3 separate regions of the Homo sapiens genome follow, and regions 2 and 3 are each linked to region 1. Evidence: fine-mapped expression QTL. A gene starts in region 1. Each other region holds a variant in brackets. All regions are shown on one strand. Distances are between the middles of the regions.

The links.
Region 2: its variant is fine-mapped to the expression of FHIP1A in whole blood (TOPMed, PIP above 0.99).
Region 3: its variant is fine-mapped to the expression of FHIP1A in whole blood (TOPMed, PIP above 0.99).

What each region holds. Positions count from the first base shown.
Region 1 is chr4:151,404,371-151,412,552 of GRCh38, forward strand. FHIP1A (FHF complex subunit HOOK interacting protein 1A) reads left to right here and starts at 4,806. Exons shown (of 14, transcript NM_001109977.3): 1 at 4,806-5,095. It overlaps FHIP1A-DT (FHIP1A divergent transcript), which reads right to left and starts at 4,522. Exons shown (of 3, transcript NR_183963.1): 1 at 2,813-4,522; 2 at 1,153-1,238. RefSeq lists enhancers at 3,236-3,545, 3,377-4,076, 4,077-4,776 and silencers at 4,003-4,475, 4,596-4,765.
Region 2 is chr4:151,321,087-151,329,268 of GRCh38, forward strand. It overlaps SH3D19 (SH3 domain containing 19), which reads right to left and starts at 4,519. Exons shown (of 20, transcript NM_001378122.1): 1 at 4,155-4,519. The coding sequence starts at 4,266. The variant C/T (reference allele first, on the strand shown) is at 4,669.
Region 3 is chr4:151,520,383-151,528,564 of GRCh38, forward strand. The region is part of intron 3 of FHIP1A (FHF complex subunit HOOK interacting protein 1A); the gene reads left to right. Among named protein-coding and RNA genes, the nearest start is that of FHIP1A, 120 kb to the left of the region's middle. RefSeq lists an enhancer at 4,105-4,669. The variant G/A (reference allele first, on the strand shown) is at 4,107.

The DNA.
Region 1 (8,182 bases):
AGAATCACTTGAAACTGGAAGGCGGAGGTTGCAGTGAGCCGAGATTGCACCACTGCACTCTAGCCTGGACCAAAGAGTGAAACTCCGTCTCAAACAAAACAAAACAAAACAAAAAGAATAAAATGAAATACATTAATAAAAAACATGATTTAGAAACGGCTACTGTTACTAATATATGCATTTACAGCCAATATACTTATTTTTAACTTTTGCTTAATTAACTTCTAAAGCAGTAGGTTCAAATTAATTGCTGTTTAACTGGATGATGCTGTTAAAAAACGCACTGCTCCATATTGGAATTCTTATATGTTGTCAGTGGGAGCATAAATTGGTATAATCACTTTGGAAAATTGTTTGGCAGTATCAACTAAATCTCATTGTATATACAGCCTATCATCCAGCAATTCCACTCCTGAGAGAAAGTGATACCTTCCTATGGCAGAAAACTTGGAAGTAGAGAAAAGCACAGAGAATAAAAATAAACTGTCATCCTAGTACTGAGATAATCATTATTATTATTATGATTTTTTTGAGATGGAGTTTCACTCTTGTTGCCTAGGCTGAAGTGCAATGGTGCAATCTTGGCTCACTGCAACCTCCGCCTCCCAGGTTCAAGTGATTCTCTTGCTTCAGACTCACGAGTGGCTGGGATTACAGGCGCCTGCCAACACGCCCAGCTAATTGTTGTATTTTTAGTAGAGACGGGGTTTCACCTTGTTGGTCAGGCTGGTCTCGAACTCCTGACCTCAGGTGATCCACCTGCCTCGGCCTCCCAAAGTTCTGGGATTACAGGCATAAGCTACCATGCCTGGCTGAGATAATCATTATTAATATTTGTAAAGAGAATCTTACTTTACACACTTACTTTTATAGTAGACTTACTTTATACAATATTATAAATATATTTCCATGTAATAGATATTTTCCAACTTTTTTTTTTTTTAAGAAGAGACAGGGTCTCACTCTGTTGCCCAGGTGGGCGTGCAGTGGCACTCAAAGCTCACTGCAACCTCGACCTCCTGGGCTCAATTGATCCTTCTGCCTCAGCCTCCTAAGCAGTTGGGACTATAGGCCCGTACCACCACATCTGCTTATCCTTTATTTTTATTTATCTATTTTAATTTATAAAGAAAAGAGTTTTAATTGGCTTACAGTTCTGCAAGCTGTACAAGCATGGCTCCAGCATCTGCTTCTGGGTGAGGGCCTCGGGAAGCTTCCACATGAGCTACCATGCCTGTCTTCATGGTGGAAGACAAAGAGAGAGCAGACAGTGTCATATGGCAAGAATGGGAGAAGGAGACAGCCCCTTTACCTTTAGCAAGACTTATTTCCTCAAAAGAATGAGTCTGTTTCACTCCCAGAGGGCATAATGGATATGAATGAAATTCATATTTGTAGAGAGGGAACTAACATTCTTAAGTGTCTATCATGTATTAGGCATTGTGTTATACACTTCACTATGCTAATTTGTCATCCTAAAACAACCTTAACAAAGTAGGTATTACTTTCATTTTATAAGTTGAAGAAACTGAAGACCATTCAAATTATGCGCCTCTCCTTTCCTGCCTTGATTTTACCCTAACCTCCTTTTGAAGTCTTCTCCAACTTTGTTATAGCAGTTCCGTCCTTACGCTGCCCACATTCAAATTATGCGCCTCTCCTTCCTGCCTTGATTTTACCCTAACCTCCTTTTGAAGTCTTCTCCAACTTTGTTATAGCAGTTCCATCCTTATGCTGCCCAGGCCAAAAGCCTCAGAGTCCTTCTCATCTCCTTCCTTTATACCCCACATCCAATGTGAGGAAACCATCAGCTTATCATCTCTACCACTATTTCTCTGGTCCACATCTCTATCTTCTTGTCCCTCAATTATTATTATTATCTTTTTGTGAGATGGAGTCTCGCTCTGTCGCCCAGGCTGGAGTGCAGTGGTGCAATCTCGGCTCACTGCAACCTCTACTCACTGCAACCTCCGCCTCCTGAGTTCAAGTGATTCTCCTGCCTTAGCCTCCTGAGTAGCTGGGACTACAGGTGCGTGCCACCACACCTGGCTAATTTTTTGTATTTTTAGTAGAGGCGGGGTTTCACCATGTTGGCCAGGATGGTCTTGATCTCCTGACCTTGTGACCCACCCACCTTGGCCTCCCAAAGTGCTGGAATTACAGGCATGAGCCACCGCACCCGGCTGACCCTAGATTATTTTAGTAGCCTCTTAACCAGTCTCTGTGCTTCTACCCTTACACCCTACTGTTTATTCTTAACCCAGCAGTCAAAGTGATCCAATTACAATGTCAGAAAGTGTCACTTTTCTACACAAAATCCTCCAATGGCTCCAACCAACTCACTCAGAGTAAAAGCCTTACCTGATCTGCATCACCCCCACCTTTCACTTCTTTGACTTCATCTTCTCCATTCTTTCATGGTGCCTTCTGGATTGCTCCTAGTACACTTAGGCATACTCCTGCCTCAGGGCCTTTACATTTGCTATGCTTTCTGCCTGGGAAGTTGTCTGCTCAGATATCCCTAACCTCCCTCAAGTCGTTCCTCAAATGTTACCTCCTCCAGAAGCTTTCCTTGATCATCACCCCTCTCCGAACATAGCACCCCTCATACTTTCTATGTACCCTCTCTGCTTAATTTTTATCCACAGCATTTCTTTCTTTCTTTCAAAACAGGGTCTCACTCTGTCACCCAGGCTGGAATGCAGTGGGCTCAAGTGATCCTCCCACCTCAGCCTCCTGGATAGCTAGGACTACAGGTGCACGCCACCATGCCTGGCTAATTTTTAAACTTTTTGTAGATAGGGGGTCTTACTATGTTGCCCAGGTTGGGTCTCCAACTTCTGGCCTCAAGTGATCCTCCTCCTTTGGCCTCCCAAACTGCGGGATTACAGGCATGAGACAGCACTCCTAGCCTCTCCATAGCATTTCTAATCATACAGCAGTCCATATATTGTCCTTATACATTTACCATCTGTCTTTCCCACGTGGAAGAGGTAAGCTCCACGAGGGCTGGAATTGTTGTTTGTGCTCTCTGCTGTGTCCTCAACCCCTAGAAGCGTGCCTAGCATGCAAAAGGCACTCAGTATATATTTGTTGAGTAAATGAATGCTTCCCCCACCTTCCAACTGTTAGAGCAGGCCAAGGGGACCTGTTGTGCAGAACTTCACAGCTTTCTACTCTGAGCTCTATCTTCCTTGTTCTTCCCCAGCTTTTACTTAGGAGCCACTTCTTGACTGAGCTTGTCACAGGTGAAAGGCTGATGAATCTGGAGAGATACTTGTGGCAAGTACCCGGTGTTCCTGCAGTCATCCACAAGCGCAGCAGTGGTGGTAGACAGCTAGAGAAGAAAGTGTAAAGTTTGCATCCTCCAATTATCACGGTTGCAAGACAGAACTTGAAACTAGATACACCTGATTTTGGTTATCTCTGGATGCCATTCACCGAGAATGAAGGGAAGAAGATACTTCCTCCAAAGGAGAATCTGATGAGGCGCCAGCAGGCTGCTGCTGCGGTGGAAACTGCCACATCCGCTTTTGCAAACTGGTGTGGCCCCAGCTGCTTGGACTGAGGCTCAACGCAGGTTTCAGCCACTTCAACCACAGGGCTACGAACATGCCAAGAGAGCCACTAACCAAGTTTCTCATTCCTCCTCTGAGATTTAAAGTCCATCACTTCGCGACTCAAACACGCAAGAGGCGTGGGAGACGGAGGAATGGGGAAGCGAGGCGGCGCTGCCCACCTTGGCAATGGCACAGCCGCGGTCTCTGATGCAAAGGCAGGCGGCCGCGCAGGGCCGGGCCTGGGTGGGAAGGCTGGGCTCTGGGAAGGATGTCGGGGCACCCGGCAGTGCCCAAAGCCACCATCTCAAGCGTGATAGTGGGAAAATGGATGCTGCACCTGCTCTCTCATCTTGCGGGGAATCGTGATTTGGGGAAGTTTCACCTTTGTTGCAGAACTGCCCACATTAGAGCCTTCATTTCTTGGGAAGGGGTTGGCGGGAGTTGCCAGTGAAATGTGTGACACACACACGCGCCACATACTCCCCAAACCCACAGACGACTCCAGTAACGCTCTAGTTACCCTTAAAAAGTAAAACAGAACAAATCAGCAGGCCCCCTCCCTCCATCCTGGCACTTCATTAATGTCGGCCAAGGCCACATTTCCCCTGCCCACTGCAGGGAGTCTGTCAGGAGAACAACAGGCGAACGTTTGCCTCACTTGACTCAGCTCTCTTGGGGCGGTATCAGCATTTTAAAATTCACACCTAAAGGAAGGAGTCAGCAAAGGAAAGCAGAGCTGGGCCGGGGCGCCGGTGGCCGCCGTCAAACCTTTGGGAAGCAAGAAATCCGAAACGCCCGTGACGTGCGGCGTTGTCCGACTCCTTCCACTAGGCAGAACCCGAGAGACGAGCCTTTGGCGGGACGGTGAACGATTGTGCTGTGTACGGCGGTGTGCGTGCGTGAGTAAAGAGTGTGTAGCTCCGGCCAAACGCTAGCCCCCAAGGGCGCGAGTGCTACACTGCGCCCAGCTCAAGTTTCTGTGGAAACTTTCCCTCAGAGGCTCCTCCTCCTTCACCTTGGAAACCGGCGCGGGCCGTGCGGCGCGGCACTGCCTAAGTCCCCGGCGCACCTGGCGGCGGCGTGTCCCAGCGGCAGAGGCGGGGCCGGCGGCGGCGGGGGCGGGGCCGGGGCGCGCTCCCCGAGGCCTCCAGGCAGGTTGGGCCCCACCCCCGCCCCTGCCCCGCCCCGGCCCCCGCCCCCGCCCCCGCCCCCCCCGCGCTCACTAGGGAGAGGCTGGGGGGAGGCAGTGACCCACGCGCCTCAGCCCGCGGCTGACGCACCTTCGAAAAGTTGCGCTCCGACCTTCTCACGACCTACATTCTTCCCGGGCACTCCTGAGTTTGAGCCGGGCCTGGAGGACCTGGGCCAAGACTTTCGAGCGGCGGCCGCCCGAGGTGCGAGGAGCCAGCCCGGCTTTCCTCACTGGGTCCCGCGCAGGCGTCCCCGGGACCGCAGAGCAAACTTTCTGGACTATCTGAGGACACTTGTCCAGCGAGCCCCACTGCTCGGGGAGGAGGAGCCACGGCCGGGGACAGGTAGGTGCTGTGCTGGCCGGAGATTTGCGCTTGAGGGATTCTTTTATTTTAGAGGGTTGAAGGAGGAGGGAGAGTCGAAATGTCCCTTCTCTGCATCCGCCAACTGGGCAGGGGGTGCGGGCATTGGGCTGAGGGAGCAGGCATTGGGCTGGGGGCCGGCTGGGGATGTTCCAAACGAGGTCGCTGCGTCGGGCGGGGGCGCAGGGGGGAGGAGGTGACTTCTAGGGTTTCGGGCTCCGGGACGGGGCGTAACGCGGTGACTGACCCTGGGAGAGAGAGAGCCAGCTTGTTTTGACGAAGGAATATGTCATTAGGGCCCTCCATCCCATTCCTTGGTCCCAGGGTCCTCTGGGAGGCACAGGAAAAGGCAAAGAGATGTGGAGTTCAGGTTTCCCCTGTAAATCAACTTGCTTACACAGGAGACAGAGGCGGTGCCCCTCTGAGGTTTGCAGCCCTTTCCTGGTGTAAGGACTTACTGGTTAGGTAGCTGTTGCTCAATTTCGTAAATTCTGTGATGAAACTGCGTTCAAGTCGTGGTTATTATTGATAGTGTGTATGTGTTTGTGTTTCCTCTGGCTCAACAAAGGTCCCTTGTTAACTCCGCTTCTGCTAGGGAGTGGGAAGAACTACCTTGGTGTCTTATTTCAGGCCTGGTCAGAGCGAGGTGTTGGTGCAGGCGGCGGTAGCCTTGTTGGCTTGGGACTTTGGGAATCACATGAGCAGGTCTAGTGAATTAGTGTCCCAGCCTCCTGGACCCACCCATTCACAGCAGATCTAGCTTCCACTATTCAGCAGATGCTGCAGCCCCAGCTATCCAGGGACAGGGAAACCCCCCTGAAGGGAAAGAGCCAAATGTTGAGAAGGAGAGACAGCTTTCAGGAGGAGGAGTAAACAATGCCTAACAATTGTTGCTTCCCTATAGATTGGGCTTGCTCCCTTGGCTTCTCTGGAAGGGCTGTGCTATCAAATTCATCTCATTAGGAAGTCAGCTGCTCCCTGCTAATAGTCATAGCAGCCCTGATGAAATTATATAGGTCATTGAAAAATAATTCCTGCTTAATTACCTTTATCCTGTTGATTAATGAGAGGGAAGATTTCCTCTCCTTAATGTATTATGCCTGCTTGTCAGGGTCACCTGCCTGACCTCAAGTTCACTTGTACACCTGGCACTAGGCAGGATGCTGTCCCCGAAGCTGTCCACATGTAGTGAACCACAGCTGAAGTCCACGTTTGGAGAACTTCAAAGGTCTTCTTTGGACCGAAATTGAGCAGGATATTTAGTCCATAAATTTACTCTTTAATACAGTATACTTGTTGGCTTTAGGTAACTTTTCGCATAATTAAAGGTTGATATCTTTTTAGTTCCAGTTAATCCCTTTCCGCAGAGCTCATAAGAATTATGTCCATGCCTGTCTTGAAATAAATTAAGTTTGGGGTCCTATTTATCATTTGTCCTGTAGGACAAGGAACAGGATTAAACTGTGTAGGGTGGCTGGAAAGGGGCAGAGAAACTGGACATCACTGAAGTGGATTCAGAGAGTGATTGAGAGTGGTCTAAAAATTTAGGTCCAACTGCCCAGCTACCTTTTTTCTTGGCTCTCATATAAAGACATTGTGTAGGACTTTTAATGGAGGACTTGAAGACTAGAAATAAAAGGAGTGTTTTATTTTTACATAGTCAGAGTGATGCATTGCTGGACAGTTCTGTACTCTGCCTCCCAAGATTGGTTCAAAATACTTTCTCTGCTAAGTTCTTTCTTTAATAGGAACTTGATAGATAATGACTGCAAACAAGAAGCAGATGTACAAATATATTATGTAGAGATATGGAGGTAAAATGAGAAAAAACAAGAATTGCCTCTGAGGAGTGAAATTATATATATATTTTTTTTTTTTTAAAGTTAGGGTCTCTCTCTCTCTCTGGCCCAGGCTAGAGTTCAGTGGCATGATCTCGGCTCACTGCAGCCTTGATCTCCTGGGCTCAGGCAGTCCTCCCACCTTAGCCTCCTGAGTAGCTGGGACCACAGGTTCATGCCATCACACTCTGTTAATTTTTTGTATTTTCATACAGACAGGGTTTTGCCACGTTGCCCAGGCTGCCCTTGAGCTCCTGGACTCAAGCAATCCGCCTGCCTTGGTCTCCCAAAATTCTGGGATTACAGGTGTGAGCCACCATGCCTGGCCTCTTGTATTACTTTCATAAAGAAAATTTAATAAGGAACCTCCTTTCTCCATGCAAATATAAAGCAAAATTGCTTTATTTAATCTGTTTAGACACTTGATCTTTATTCTGTGTACATCTGTCTTCTAGGGTGATACGTAGGCCCAGTGAAGATCTGGATCAGATTCTGCCATTGAAACACAATTTAGATCTACTTCATCCTTATTTTTAGCAACTTCCAACCCTTGGTTCTTAGCCCAGGTAGGGGAACAGTGCTCAAGAGTGACAAGAAACTCCAGGAACTTCATTTATAGGGATCTCTTAATGAAAACAATAACAGAAGTGAACAGTTCTGTAGTGCTTTATGTTTCACAGAGTGCTTTCATGTACCATGTTTGTGCCTTGTGATTTAACCATTTTGTAGTAGATGCCATTGTGTTTAGATTACACAGGAGGAAAGCAGATGAGGTTCAGAGATAATAAGGGACTTTTTTGAGACGGAGTTTCACTCTTGTTGCCCAGGCTGGAGTGCAATGGTGTGATCTCGGCTCACTGCAACCTCTGCCTCCCAGTTCCAGCGATTCTCCTACCTCAGCCTCCTGAGTAGCTGGGATTACAGGTGCCCACCACCATGCTCAGCTAATTTTTTTTGTATTTTTAGTAGAGATGGGGTTTCGCCATGTTGGCCAGGGTGGTCTCAAACTCCTGACCTCAGGTGACCCACCCACCTCGGCCTCCCAAAGTGCTGGGATTACAGGCGTGAGCCACTGTGTTCGGCCAATAATAAGGGACTTTTATGGGCATACTCTTTGCTCCTGTATATTGTGGACTGAGACCTGAATTCAGGATTTCTGATTTACAGCCCATGCTTTCACTTTTTTCCTTGTTACATTTTGTGAAGTGGTTGGATGTGAAATGGGCTTTTC
Region 2 (8,182 bases), 83 kb before region 1:
TTACAAACTTAATGTTGAGTGAAAAAAGCACCTGGACTAAAGCAGGGATGTTAGTATAAATAACATTATCAGTAGCCTTTATCCTCCCTTCTTCCCCCACCCAAGCTATCCTTCCTCTAGGGTGACTATCCTTGATTTGCCTGGGACTGAGGAGTTTCCATGAATGGGGGACTTTCAGTTTTAAAAGCTGGAAAAGTCCTGGGAAACTGGGAAGAGTTGGTCACCCAATCTCGTCCGCCTATTCCCCCCACCCTCCACTTCTTGCCCTTGGCTAGCACTAACTAACACTAACACAGTGGCACTAACACACCAATCTCAGTTGTGCAGATAGAGATGAAGAATATGCAATCAATAACAGAAAGAAAAAAACCAAGAAACAAAAATGAAGTTGATCATAAATGCCAGGCTGTATAAATCAACCATGAAATCCTTTAAGCTACCGAGAAAACCCACAATGGAAACTAAGTCCTATAAGTTAGCCTGTGGAAATCTCCATGTTTATCTCATGGGTTTTCATCTGATCTACTAAAAAGGACAAATTAGCCAAAGGAACTATTTCTTAGAATTTAACAATCTGTGTTGGGGTGTGATTTCTCTCTTAATTACATGGAGTTTGCAAAGTGCATCATCCTTTTGAACCAGCAACATAAATGTTATCTGGGAATGTGTCAAAAATGAAAATTATCAGGCCCTATCCCAGACCAAGTGATCAGATACTGAGCGTGTACAAGGCCTTCAGGCAATTCAGATACATGTGGCAAAAGTTTGAGAACCACTGGATTAGTGTACCCACATCCTCTCTTCCTTGTTTGTAATGGGCATTTGGTGGATTAGTGAGACACCCCCAAGAATTCAGGTGTTGTGTCTAGCTTTCATATTACCACTCTCTGTCAGGTCAGGCAATTAAGGATCTTGGATACCACCATCAACAGTAAATATTTCACATAGTGCCAGATTTACGACACCTTAGCCTCAGCACATGAAACCCAAACAATGGAATACTCTCTGCTCCCCATTTACTTTCCTATAACTGCTTATTAATCTCATGCATCATGAGCTACTACAGAATTAACCCTCACTGGCCAGGTGCAGTGGCTCACACCTGTAATTCCAGCACTTTGGGAGGCTGAGGTGGGAGGAGTTCGAGATCACCCTGGCCAACATGGTGAAACCCCGTCTCCACTAAAAATAGAAAAATTAGCCAGGCATGGTGGTGCACACTTGTAATCCCAGCCACTCTGTAGGCTGAGGCATGAGAATCACTTGAACCTGGGAGGTGAAGGTTGCAGTGAGCCATGACCACGCCACTAGACTCCAGCCTGGGCGACAGAGCAAGACTCTGCCTAAAAAAAAAAAAAAAAAAAAAAAACCTTTCCTGAATTGACCTCAGTACTTGATTGCCTATAATTCTGCCAAAAAAAAAAAAAAAATTCAACTGAGCTTTTTATTTATTTTAGAATCATGCTGAAGATATTTTATTACTTTAAAAGCTGGGAAACATAAATACATTTTATAAAGAAGTTGGGCACCAGATCAACTATCATCCTTTGTTGTAAAATAAAACTGTGATTAATCAAACCCAATTTTCTTAACATCATTTTAAAAACACACACACATTTATTTCCTAAGGATGCCCTACAAGGACTGTCCTGTGCTCAGAACCTGCCTGGGGCTCTTGGCCTTTGAATGAAAAGAACTCATTCCAGACATTTCATAATCTCAAGTCATTACTTGCTTTCTGCTGGGTTGATAAAATACAGGACAATTCCACTTAAATGATCTTAAAAAGGTAAAACTAAACAATATTTTATAGAGATGCATATGTGTATGGTAAAACTGTACAGAATGAAAAGGAAATAATAACCACAAAGGTTAAAAAAATGGTTACATCTAGGGGAGAGAGGAGGCTAAGTCTAGGAGGGATGGGAATCCATTTCTAAGGAACTGACTATATCCTATTTCTTGACTTGAGCATGAGTTACAAGAGTTTTTACTTTATAATTTACAAATTTCATATGTTCTTCTGTATGTAAGTTACAAAAATAAATAAATGCACTTACACAACCACTCCAAAATTTATCAGGGAGAGAAGGAAGAGTTCACAGACTACCTTAAGTCCATAAACCCCAGGTTTATGGTTATCAAGCTAGGTGAAATCAGAGAAAAGGAAACTCTTTAGATTGTAAAATGATAAGGGAAGGAGGGAGCACTGAGAACAGGAAAAGTGAAAAACTGAAAAGGTGATGCAGAAAAAACATGAAGCTTCTGCGTCAGTTCATACCCTCTCACTTGGAGGAGAGCAACATCTAGCACAGACATAACTAACAAATGCCCAAGCTTGGTAAGGAATGTGTTAGTGTCTGAAAAACATGTTAACTAATAAGGGGAAAGTGGAGCTCAGCTTGTAAAGAAATGTAAACTATTAAATAATTTCTTCTAAAAGAAATAAATCCAAAAATCGCAAGTTTAACCCTCTTACTCATTCCATTACATCGTCCTCACACCCTTTAATGGAAAAAGGGCATATAAATGGTTAGAAAACTACAAACACCAATTACTGAATGCAAAAAGTACACAATGTCATGTCTCAGCAAAATATTATCAAAGAACCTAGAAAAGCCTTTGTCAACCTTGAGAAATTAGGGAACTGGTGAAAACTAATTACAAAATGTCATTTCCACCAGCTTTGGAATAAATACACATATTGCAACTAAATGATAAACACACATCTGGATCACATCTAGTCTGAACTCCAAAACAGGTCTTCACTGTACAGTCTCTTGTGAGAATGAAGCTTTCTGCTGAAGGTAACAGGAATCTAAGGTGGCCTACCCTGTTTAAATCCATAGGTCAGGCATGGCGGTATATCTTTGTAAAGTTTTTTCATTGTACTCTTGCAAGAAATATTCACTTATATCCAGCAACTATTCATTATTTCACAAGGTTTGGGTTTACACTGAACAAAATTACCAATTATGTTCAAAACTGGTGTTCATATAGACAGCCAAATGCCTTATTTTGATGAAAAGTTGTAATAATGAGCATGGAGAATTATTTTTATGTTCCAAGATTCTACCAAAGGCATTAAATTGACTATTTCTTCAAGATGTTCTTCTCAAGTTTTCCTTTCATCCTACTTTCTACCCTCCATTTGTTCCGCACAGATACAATATCTTCTCTATTTTTCCAACTTTCTCTTAGTGGTTAAGGGAGTCACACAGAAAAGCTTCTCCACTTCATGGAATATTCGCTATATTCCACTTTATAATGAGGCTCTCAGTGAATCGTTCTCCTCCGACTCTCTCACTTCCCTATCTCCCTTTTGTTGCCAGTCCCCCTAGGTTTGTTCTTCCCTCTTGTTTTCAGATAACTCGGATTACCCAGTTGGAACCAAAGGCCAAAGAATGTCCTCTCTATTATGTTTGATTGAAAAGCCGCCCGGAAGAGGGAAGGGGTGTGGATCTACACTTATTCACTCTTTCACTAATGTGCCAAACTATTTGATCCGTGCCGCTTTTGTGTACCCAAAACACAGTATCATAAAAGTAATTACAGGCCCGAAAATGATTCTCAGCCCAAATGAATGGCCTTTTGGAATGCTATATTCTGGACTTCTCTTTGCGTGGGGGAGGGTCTCACAACTAACGAAAACAAGTCCTACAGAAAACTGGTGAGCTCGGCGGCTGGGGGAGGGAGGGAGGGGGGTCACAGGTCCGAAGTGCAAGGGACGCCGAAACAGGACTTGCCTCAGTTATGAGCACGTGCTCTGACCTGGCTGCGGCGGCGCAGGCAAACCCCTCGGAAGGTGTCGTTGTCCACCGAGACGGCCATTGACCTCTGACTCATCCAGAGATAAGTCATCAACCAGGCCACAAGTCCCAAGCCAGCAGCTCCTGGATTTAGTGTGCACGGAAAATTTGAGTTTCAGCTGTACGACCACTAGCAGTTAAAGACGGGTCTGAATTTCCTCGGGCTCGGCCGGAAAGTGAGGATGGCGATGGAAATGCCACCCTCCCCGAGTCTGGCCTCTGAGAGTTAAAGAAGCCGGTCCCATCCCGGCGCGTGAAGGAGCTGCCGCTGTGTGGGGCAGGACCCGAGCGGCCCCAGAGCGCGCAGCTCTGGGTCCCCGCCGCCCCGTCCCCCGCGCCTCTCACCTGCGGCCGAGTGGCCCGAGAGCGCACGGCCCCGGGCGCGGCGCTGGCCACCAAGTTCGCGGCGCTCGCGTAGCTCTTCCTCCTCGTCCTCCCGCCGCCGGCCCTCAGCCATGGGCGAGGCGCGGGGCGCAGCCGCGGGATGGCCAGCGAGCTGCGGCCCCGGCGCCCCAGAACGCCTGCACCCGGCGCCCCACGCCACCGCCCTCGGGCCGGGGGGAAGGCGGCTCCCGGAGAGGAGGCGTCGGCGGCGGCTGTGGAAATGGCCACCTCCGCGAACTCCACCTGCAGCCGGCCGGGCAGCGGCAGGGCGCGGGCCGAGCCGATTCCCCGCCTCCTTGCGGCGTCCCGGCGGCCTCTTAATCCCTGGCCTTTCCCACTCCCACTCCCGCTCTCTTCCCCCTTCCTCTTTGCCTTCCCCGCCCCGTAGAGCTCCACCGCGGATCGGGCGGGTTCGGGGCTGGCCTCGCCTCCTCAGGGAGGGGTTATCGGCCCCTAAGGCCGCCCCACAGCCACA[C/T]ACGCTGGAAACACCAGCTCGACCCAAACAAACGTGTGCAAAATAAATAAACGGGATAGGAAGAGGGGAAAGAGGAGGTGGCCTGGCCTCTTCCTGCCTTTTCACGATATTCCAGTGTCAACAGGAAACCCATTTGTTTGACACTTAAACAAAAAGAGGAGGAACCCGACCGGGGCCGAACTGGGAGAGATGGGACAGCTGGGAGCTGCTGAACTTTGGAACAAACTTGGCTTGGAGTTGGGTCGAGCCTCTGCAATGCACACTTTTTTCTTTCCCTCTCTTTTCGCCCTTAAAAACCTAGACTTGCGGGAGCACAGAGGATTTTTAGGGCAGTGAAACTACTATGCGTATGATTCTGTAATAGCGGATGCCTTTGTCCAAGCCCAAAGAATGTACAAAACCAAGAGTGAACCGCAATGTAAACTATAGACTTTGGGTGATTATGAGGTGTCAATGTGGGTTCATCAATTGTAGCAACTGTGGCACTCTGGTGGGGGATGTTGATAATGGGGGAGGCTATGCATGTGTGGGAGCAGGGGGTACATGGGAAATCTCTGTACCTTTAGCTCAATTTTGCTGTGAACCTAAAACTGTTCTTAAAAATAGTCTAGTAAGACTGGAAGCGGTGGCTCATGCCTGTAATCCCAGCCCTTTGGGAGGTCGAGGCGGGCAGATCACGAGGTCAGGATATCGAGACCATCCTGGCTAACACGGTGAAACCCCGTCTTTACTAAAAATACAAAAAAAAAAAAAAATAGCCAGGCGTGGTGGCGGGCGCCTGTAGTCCCAGCTACTCGGGAGGCTGAGGCAAGAGACTGGCCTGAACCCAGGAGGCAGAGCTTGCAGTGAACGGAGATCGCACCACTGCACTCCAGCCTGGGCAACAGAGCGAGAGTCCTTCTCGAAAAAAAAAAAAAGTCTAATAAAAATGTTTAATAATAAATCAAGCCTCACTGTATTCCAGTTCATTTAGGGCTAGGATATGGCTACAATTCCTAGAAGAACAGGAAGAAATGTGTTAAAGAGACCCATACGTGATTATTTGTAGAGAGGCAACTAGGGGAAGTGGAGAGACCACTGGCTCTGGAGTCAGAAACTGTAATTTGAAGCACTTAGCTGTGTGAGCTACCCCTAAGAAAGTTTTTCAAAGCTGGAAAGAACCGTGTAACCAAAGTTGTGTGTACCTGCACAATACACATCTTAGGTTCAGTAGGTGCACGTACTTACTTTCACACAGAGAGGAAAAGATTCTGGAATTTCACCAAAAGATACCCAAGTAGCAGGCAGAAATATTACCTGGACATGAAACCTTAGGAAATTCCTGAGTGCGATGAACAGGCCTTTATCTTTGGCGTCTTGCTCTATTTCTGAGAGATTACCAAGAGCTCCTAATGTTCAGCAAGTAGGAGAGAAAAAGAAAGGGAGAAAAGGGTCACTGAAAATAGAATTGCCTGCCACACCTGAGTGCTGTTTCTTTGCCTTTTCAATAGTGGCTGTTGCCGCCTGAGAAAATCTTTCCGCTTTTAAGCAGATAAGAACCACAATCGATTCTGTGGAATTGAGGTCAAATCCACAAGTTAAAACTTTATTACTGCATAAGCGATTAAATAAGTAGACACTTAGAGAACTGGAAATTAAGCCAACAACAATAAAACAAAGGTTCTGGACCTTTAGGGTTGTTTTAAATGTTTGGTAAGTGAAACCTTATTTGTCACTTCCCTTCAAGGATGAATAATTTAAAAATCCCTACCTTGACCAACAGTACCATTTCATTAAGCCATTGGAGTCAGTTTCTACTGTCATTGAGTCTTAATTTTTTTTTTTTTTTTTTTTTTTTGAGACTAGAGTCACTCTATTGCCGAGGCTGGAGTGCAGTGGCACGATATCGGCTCACTGCAACCTACGCCTGCCGGGTTCAAGGGATTCTCCTACCTCAGCCTCCCGAGTAGCTGGGATTACAGGCATGCACCACCACGCCCGGCTAATTTTTGTATTTTTAGTAGAGACGGGGTTTTACCATGTTGGCCAAGCTGGTCTCAAACTCCTGACCTCGTGATCCACCCACCTCAGCCTCCCAAAGCGCTGGATTACAGGCGTGAGCCACTGAGCCCAGCCATTGAATCTTAATTTGGAAAGGCGTGAAAGTTGTTCTGGGTTTCCCAGCCAATTAGAGCTTCGGGAATCCACATTTTTGTGGTGGGTGGGTGGTGCATGCCCAAGCCCACTCTACAATTAGCAAACATTTATGGTAACTGTTGTGTGCCAAGTACCACTCTAGGTGCTGTGGGGAGACTCAAAAGAAGGAAAGAAATATCCATGATCACATCCTATGGTAGGTGCTTTTCACATATGTCTTCTCATTGCAAAAGAACAAAACATGTTCCCTGTCCTCCAATGAGAGAGGAAGGTCTATACAGTTTACACAAAACGAGACAAAACTTGGTAAGTTCTTCAATAAAGATATAACTTTGGACAGGGTGCCAACATAATTCAACAGGGAAGGAATTGTCTTTACAACTGGATATCCACATGCACATGAATGAATTTGAGCCCCTATTTCATTCCATATGCAAAAATTAACTCAAAATGGATCATAGACCTAAATGTAAGAACTAGAACTATAAAACTCTTCGAAGAAAACATAGGATTAGATCTCTGTGACCATGGTTGAAAAAATAATTTTTTGGATGTGATACCAAAATACATAAATATCAGAAGAAAAAATAAATTGGACTTAGCAAAATTTAAAACTTTCGTGTTTCAAAGGACACGATTATTAAAGTGAAAAGACAGAAGGGGAGAACATACTTTCAAATCATATATCTAATAAGGACCTTATATTCAGAACATATAAAAAACAACAATAGTTGTTTAAAAACCCAATTAGGCCGGGTACAGTGGCTCACGTCTGTAATCCTAGCACTTTGGGAGGCTGTGGCGGGTGGATCAGGAGTTCCAGACCTGCCTGGCCAGGAGTTCAGGAGGTCAGGAGTTCCAGACCTGCCTGGCCAACCATGGCCAACATGGTGAAACCCCATCTCTACTAAAAATACAAAAAATTAGCCAGGCACGGTGACGCATGCCTGTAATCCCAGCTACTCAGGAGGCTGAGGTAGGAGAATCACTTGAACCCGGGAGGTGGAGGTTGCAGTGAGCTGAGATCCCGCCATTGCACTCCAGCCTGGGCAACAAGAGTGAAACTCTGTCTCAAAAAAAAAAAAAAAAAAAAAAAAAAGATGAACTTTGAAAACATTATGTCAAGTTAAAGAAGCCAGAGACAAAAGATTCCTATGATCTTGTTTATATGAAATGTCTAGAATAGGCTAATCTATGGAAACAAAATGTAGGTTAGTGGTTGCCAGGGGAGGGGAGAATGGGGAGTGATGGCCAATGGGTATAAGGTTTCTTTTTGAGGTGATCAGAATATCCTAAAATCAGAAGTGGTGGTGGTTGCACAATTTTGTAAATATAAGGGATACATTTTTGGTACATGAATTATATCTCAATAAAGCTG
Region 3 (8,182 bases), 120 kb after region 1:
TCTGTGACTCTTTCTGTTCTATTGATCTACTTTGATTATTTTGGTCTTGTGCCATTTTTAGTAGTGGTATATTCTATGAATGTTCCATAAATCATATGGAATCACTTTGCCATTGTTGGACATTTTTAAGTTTATAATTTTTTATTATTAAAAACTGTACTGTGATGTATATTACTTCTGTTGTTTAATCTTTACTTGAGTGCAAGTGGTAGAAATAATTTATAAACAAAATTCAAGACAAATATGTATAACATTACTTTTAGCTTTACATAATATATTCTAATTTTTAGTTCAGTGACAAATGACAGTAACTACTATTAACAAGAAGGTAGAGTGAGTACTGTGACCAGCAGCCATGAAGTCCTCGTCAGCTGGCAGAGGAAAATTCACTTTGCTTCTAAATGTCATTCATGGATTGTTACTATTATACTAGTAACTAAAATTATTAGAGTAGAGAAGTATAAAGAACAAAAACTTCAAAAAGGCTTTCTTAGAACTTAGTGTTCTCCATGGGTTCTGTAATATATTGTAAACATGTATTTGCATGCATGTTGCAAGATTGAAAATGGGAGTCAGATATTTGACCGATTGTTTAAAGGTATTCACTCAATTATGGAAACAGAACAGTGGTTATAACACATGTCCTATGTATTGTCAGATGTGAGAGGTTATCTGTCTTGAGCTTTTGTATATGGTAATCAGAAAGACATTTAGTTGTGTAAATGATCCCTGAGGTGCATGTTTTTATTTTATGTGTGTATAAATAAAATTATACCACTGCATGAAGTGTTTGTAAATGCTTAGCTTCTTTATGTAACAATTTATCCACTTAGAGAAGCAATTTGTGGTATGTAGGCTACCCTAGATTTTATTTTAAGTGTTTGTGATTCTTTTCTTGGGGAAGGTGGATTTTAAGGGAGGAACAGTCATTTTGGATGAATATTTAATAATTTTTTTCATATTCTTGTCCATATGAACAGTGAAATAAATGTATATCATAACCTTTTAAGAGGTTTTCTTGCATTTACCATAACAACAATTAATATCTGTGATGGAAGGACTACTATACTGGAAAACTACACTTTTCATAAATTATTTAGTCGTCTCTGCGGTCTAATCAGGGTCTGATAGCTGTAGCTTGTAGGAAGCTAGATCTTGGTAAAGCACAAAGACCAAGGACTATACCTAGAACAGTATCATAGGAACCTTGTATAAGAATGGGTTATTCGGACTGTTATATCTGCCTTCTAATTTGTCAGTAAATTGGAGGCTTCCTTTCCGGGTATGTCAGTTTGTATGTATGTATGTATGTATGTATGTATGTATGTATGTATGTATGTATTTTTTTATTTATTTATTCAAGACAGGGTCTTGCTCTGTCCCACAGACTGGAGTGCAGTGGCATGATCACAGCTCACTGCAGCCTTGGCCTCCCAGGTTCAAGTGATCCTCCCACCTCACCCTCCCAAGTAGCTGGGACCACACACATGTGCCACCATGCCTGGCTAATTTTTAAAATTTTTTGTGGAGATGGGGTCTCCCCATGTTGCCCAGTCTGGTCTCAAACTCCTAGGCTCAAGTGACCCTCCCACTTCGACCTCCCAAAGTGCTGGGATTACAGGTGTGAGCTACCATGCCTGGCTGATGTTGGTTATTTTTAGCAAAATAAAAACTCTTAGATGTCTGAAACTTTCACTATCACTCTATGATCTATTATAAATCAATAAGAATCTTTAGGCAGGCTGTCCCCTTTTTCTCTCTTTCCTCCATGAAAGAACACAATGAAGTGAGTAAAAAAGCCATTTATTTGCCCTTCCTTCTAGCCCCAGTGCTGATTCCAGCCTTCAGTGCTGATCCAGTTTCTGGATCACTGTGGATACAGGGTATGGGGGCCACTCTAACCGACTTTAATCCCTTCCTGGATTCAGCTCGTGAAATAGAATTGTTTGTTTTAGTTGTATTGGCTTTGAAGTTTTGTGTAGTGAATTGTCAGAGTCCTGGACTGAACTCAATCTCTGGTTAATTCTTGATGAAATGATTTCTCCTTTCTCACAGAACCAAATGGACATCCTCAGTTGTTCTCTGTTCAGGAATCTCCCTGTGGAAAGTCAGTGGAGGTTTAACCAGGTTGGGAGAGAGGACAGTCACTGCTGGCTGCTGCCTACTGTGAATTCCCTTCAGTATCCAATTTTTCACTTCCCTGCCTATTCTTCTAATGAGAAATAACCCAGAAGTGGAACAGAAGAAAAACAAAACCCAAAACCATCAAACAAGCTTAAGACAAATTTTGTCCTTTGGCTTTCCAATCTTCTCATCTAATCATATTATTTTCAGCAACTTTTGATAACGTGTTGCTTGTATAAAATCAATTTGTGTGTCTTTTTTCTTTCATTCTTTCTTCCTTTTTTCACAATAAGATCTTGGGAGAGTGAATGCTAATGCAGTTCTAAAGTGGAAGCTTAAAACTAAGAACAGTTTGTTCTCCTTCCATCCCTTTACACTGTGATCTTTAACATCACCGTCAAGGAGAGTGTGTTTGGTTTTGTGATCAATTTAGCTGTCAGGGGTTTGTGATTTTCTGAGAGCTGACTCTTGCTGCTAATGAACATGATCATTTATACACTGTCACTGTAGTATAGGCATGTTAAATAATTGATCAGGCCCTGGCAGTTAGAGAATGGCAAATGCAGTCCCTTTGTTGCTATGGTAATACATTTGGTTAGGGGGGCTGTCATTTGGACCACATGGATCTGGCACATGTGACATAATTGCCTGTGGTTGAGGCGGTTGCAGGAGAAAATCAACTTAAGAAGAGGTGGCATTTTGAAGTAAATTAATGTATATTTCAGGGTTTTTTTTGGGCTTAACATTGTGGAGTGACTTATTCTTTTCTATTAAAAGGCTCATTCTCAGCTAATGGTAAGCATAGAGAATGAGTCAAGTGACAGATTTGTTTACTTGCTGACACAGTGGAATTTGTTCATTTATTGTATAAAATGGTTATTGTGTGAAGTTTACATTCCTCCCTCTATTATCCCCTGGAGGGCTCCCCATAAGTGAAATTGATGCCGGGCTTATTAGGGATCCCGAAGGGAATGGACAACATACTCTCTTTTGTTCTCTGTTTTTTTTTCTTTAAACAATCATAAGTTTTTAAAGGTAGGGGCTATGTTTTTGTATTCTTTCAACAAATATTTATTTGTTGCAAGGTGCTCTTAGGGGTTGGGAGCACAGTGTGAGCAAAGCAGATATGGTCCTTGCCCTCAGAGGTTAGACTGTGGTGGATTATGTCCATTTGTCTTTGAGTTTCTCCTTTAGCCCTATCCTTAGCCTTATCAAGAACCTTCTCAATATGTGTTTGGTAAGTGTTTAGAATAGTTTCTTCCTTTCCAGTCCAGTCTCTTAATATATGTTTCTTCCAATGATCTATTAATACTATTTGTGAACAACCAACACAAAAGTAAATGAAAGCTTAATTGACATAAGTGCAGCCCTTCCATTGATCCATGTCCTTCTTTTCCTTCATAGTTTAGCCAAGTTCTACCTCTGCTGTGATGCCATCCAAGCCAACAGCAATGTCTTTCTGGCTATTTTTTTACTCAGTTGATGTGACATATTTTGTTCTGTTTTTTAAAAATGTTATTATTGGCCAGGCGTGGTGGCTCACACCTGTAATCCCAGCACTTTGGGAGACCGAGGCGGGCAGATCATGAGGTCAGGAGATCGAGACCATCCTGGCTAACACAGTGAAACCCTGTCTCTACAAAAAATTAGCTGGGCGTGGTGGCACGCGCCTGTAATCCCAGCTACTTGGGAGGCTGAGGCAGGAGAATCACTTGAACCCGGGAGGCGGAGGTTGCAGTGAGCCAAGATTGTGCCACTGCTCTCCAGCCTGGGTGACAGAGTGAGAATCTGTCTCAAAAAAAAAAAAAAAAGTTGTTACTTAATCTTTCATGTGTCCTTGCCATCCCTCTTAGATGATTTGGGGCAGGAAAAAAGCTGAAATCCAGTGGTCAAACCTCAGCATCTTCATTTTATAGAGAAGTCAGGCCTGTAGAAATTAAATGATGACAGGTTAATAAAAGAATCAGGACTGGTATCGAAGT[G/A]TCTAGACTCCAAGATTCCTCTTCTTTACTCTTCATGTGCCATTTCTGAGAGGAGGCACCAGCAGCTGCTGTGCTCTCAACTTAAAGTGGGAGTCTTGTAGCCATGGGTGGTGAACAGAGGGCTGATGCTAGGACTGAACTAGGCATAATGGGTAACAACAGTGGTTAGATAATGCAGAACTAAAGGTTGAAGCACTTTATCAGTTTTAATTTGACATATGAAGCAGTTGGAAACCATTGTAGGCTTCTGAGAAGAAGCTAAACATGAGCAAATTAACACTTGAGGGAAGATGCAAGAGACACCTGCTGAGTATCAGTATGGTTGGGGGCAGGGAGGACAGCAGGAAATGCCTTTGGAAAGGAAGTGTTGCCTGTTCGACATGTAGAAACTTGAGGCTCTTTGGTTTTGAACTAAGATACTATAATAAATACATGACAGAAATAGGAATCAAATTCTCAAATGGTGCGTCAGCTCCATCTCTTTTGATCAAAGGGCTTTCTGGCTCTGAATTTTGATGATTATCTTATTTTATTTTCACTTGCAGAAAGATCATTCTAGCATTGCTTACCTCTCATCCCATACTTATGTGACTCCAGCCCTGATTAAAATAGACTGAAATTAAGAGAAATCTTCTAAATTAAACAAAAAGGAAAATTTACTGAAAGAATTCTAATAGGTTATGGAACTCAGGCTCAGCTGGGCCTAAGGAAGATTTTACATCAGGAATTAGAATGCTAGCTCAGCACCCTATTCTGTTTTCTTTCTTTCTCTCACTAAACTGGCTTTCACTCCACATGGCTAAACCAGGCTGCACTATAGCTTCTGAGTTTATGTCTCAGTTATTGAAGCAACTTGAGAAACACATTGAGCATTTTCCAATTGTATTTTCAATTCCTGAGAGGAAAAATCGGATTGACTCAGCCCATTTTTTGCCCAGCAAAGGTGGGAGGTAGAGCAGCCAGGCTCATCTGATGCCAAAATGGCAGTGCCAGATCTCATCCTTGAATTGGAAGTATTGGGGGACAGAGAAGGGGGTCTTGGCAGATGCCCCCAACAAATTGAAAATCCCCACTTCAAATTACCCAGATTTCTAAAGAGGTGTTTGCCATTTGTTGAATAACTGTTTTGAAATTTCATTGTGGCATAATGAGGAATTACATTTATTCTTTCCATTTAATCAATTTAATCATTTTAAAAACAATTTAGATCTGTAGTGTTTTCCTGAAGCTAATGTTTTGCTGCTCACCTTTGTACTTCTTTTTTTTTTTTTTTCATTTTTAATTTTTTATTGATCATTCTTGGGTGTTTCTCGCAGAGGGGGATTTGGCAGGGTCACAGGACAATATTGGAGGGAAGGTCAGCAGTTAAACAAGTGAACAAAGGTCTCTGGTTTTCCTAGGCAGAGGACCCTGCGGCCTTCCGCAGTGTTTGTGTCCCTGGGTACTTGAGATTAGGGAGTGGTGATGACTCTTAAGGAGCATGCTGCCTTCAAGCATCTGTTTAACAAAGCACATCTTGCACCGCCCTTAATCCATTCAACCCTGAGTGGATACAGCACATGTTTCAGATAGCACAGGGTTGGGGGTAAGGTCACAGTTCAACAGGATCCCAAGGCAGAAGAATTTTTCATAGTACAGAACAAAATGAAAAGTCTCCCATGTCTACCTCTTTCCACACAGACACGGCAACCATCCGATTTCTCAATCTCTTCCCCACCCTTCCCCCCTTTCTATTCCACAAAACCGCCATTGTCATCATGGCCCATTCTCAATGAGCTGTTGGGTACACCTCCCAGACGGGGTGGTGGCCGGGCAGAGGAGCTCCTCACTTCCCAGTAGGGGCGGCCGGGCAGAGGCGCCCCTCACCTCCCAGACGAGGCGGCTGGCCGGGCGGGGGGCTGACCCCCCCACCTCCCTCCCGGACCGGGGTGGCTGGCCGGGCGGGGGGCTGACCCCCCCACCTCCCTCCCGGATGAGGCGGCTGGCCGGGCGGGGGGCTGACCCCCCCACCTCCCTCCCGGACGGGGCGGCCGGCCAGGCAGAGGGGCTACTCACTTCCCAGTAGGGGCGGCCGGGCAGAGGCGCCCCTCACCTCCCGGACGGGGCGGCTGGCCGGGCGAGGGGCTGATCCCCCCACCTCCCTCCCGGACGGGGCGGCTGGCCGGGCGGGGGGCTGACCCCCCCTCCTCCCTCCCGGACGAGGTGGCTGCCGGGCGGAGACGCTCCTCACTTCCCAGACGGGGCGGCTGCTGGGCGGAGGGGCTCCTCACTTCTCAGATGGGGCGGCTGCCGGGCGGAGGGGCTCTTCACTTCTCAGACGGGGCGGTTGCCGGGCAGAGGGTCTCCTCACCTCTCAGATGGGGCGGCCGGGCAGAGACGCTCCTCACATCCCGGACGGGGCGGCAGGGCAGAGGCGCTCCCCACATCTCAGACAATGGGCGGCCGGGCAGAGACGCTCCTCACTTCCCAGATGGGATGGCGGCTGGGAAGAGGTGCTCCTCACTTCCTAGATGGGATGGCGGCCGGGCAGAGACACTCCTCACTTTCCAGACTGGGCAGCCAGGCAGAGGGGCTCCTCACATCCCAGACGATGGGCGGCCGGGCAGAGACGCTCCTCACTTCCCAGACGGGGTGGCGGCCGGGCAGAGGCTGCAATCTCGGCACCCTGGGAGGCCAAGGCAGGCTGCTGGGAGGTGGAGGTTGTAGCGAGCCGAGATCACGCCACTGCACTCCAGCCTGGGCACCATTGAGCACTGAGTGAACGAGACTCCGTCTGCAATCCCGGCACCTCGGGAGGCCGAGGCTGGCAGATCACTCGCGGTTAGGAGCTGGAGACCAGCCCGGCCAACACAGCGAAACCCCGTCTCCACCAAAAAAATATGAAAACCAGTCAGGCGTGGCGGCGCACACCTGCAGTCGCAGGCACTCGGCAGGCTGAGGCAGGAGAATCAGGCAGGGAGGTTGCAGTGAGCCGAGATGGCAGCAGTACCGTCCAGCTTCGGCTCGGCATCAGAGGGAGACCGTTTAAAGAGAGGGAGAGGGAGACCGTGGGGAGAGCGAGAGCGAGAGAGAGAGGGAGAGGGAGAGGGAGAGGGCACCTTTGTACTTCTTAACTGCTGGAAAATTGACTTTATTATTGTTATTATTTTTATTGGTAACACAGGGGCTGAGAAGTTAAAGGTCTGCAATGCTTCAGTATAATGCTCTGATAATTAAAAGGTGAATTTCTGTGCATGAAGAAATTCTGTGAATCATAAACCATAGTTCTTTTGATTGTGTTTATACTCTTTCCAGAGAGGTTCAGAAATGAATAACCTTGAGATACTCAGACCTCACAAGGTTTACTAGCTTCAAAGATTCTGATTTTATTTATAGGCTGCAAAAAACCACTCAATGAAGTTGGTTGTGATTCACTGCTTATCACCTTGGGCTATTGCCACTCAATGCCAGGAAGGTATTGAATTTTGTACAGTGAGAGAGTAGAATAAAAACCGTGTAGCTCCAAACAGAAGCCCAAGCGTTATCTCAGGTATTTCTCATAGCTTATTGAATGGACCCAGGCCAGTGGCTTCAGATCTGAGTTTTTCTGCTTCTCCCCACCTCTGTGAGAAGTGAATACTTTGTCAATACAGCAGCTGCTTGGTTCTTTTGGTGACTGAAGGAAGAGCTAATAGGAACAGTAATTTTCATGGCCAGTTGAGTAGTGGTCTGACGAAAAATAAATCTGGATAAATTATGCCTTGGCCTGTTAGAGTACCCCTGTTTCACTCCCAGCTTTGATTTATGCAGTAGTGCTCCTCTACTGCCTCTTTAAAATCTATGGTAAACAAATTTTCTGTTATATGCAAATTTGAGAAAGGCGCTGAAGTAGATAGCTATGAAATGTACATCATGGGTATCTGCTGAAACCCATTGTCCGTTCTGTCGAAATATAGAACTCATTTATTTAAACCAGAAAACACGAAGTGGAACAAATTTTGGTTGGAAGCTAGGTAATAAAATAAATGATACATGGAAAGGGACCCCAAAGGTGCTCCAGAAAAGCTGGCATAGGATTGGAGGCCAGGCTAGGAGGA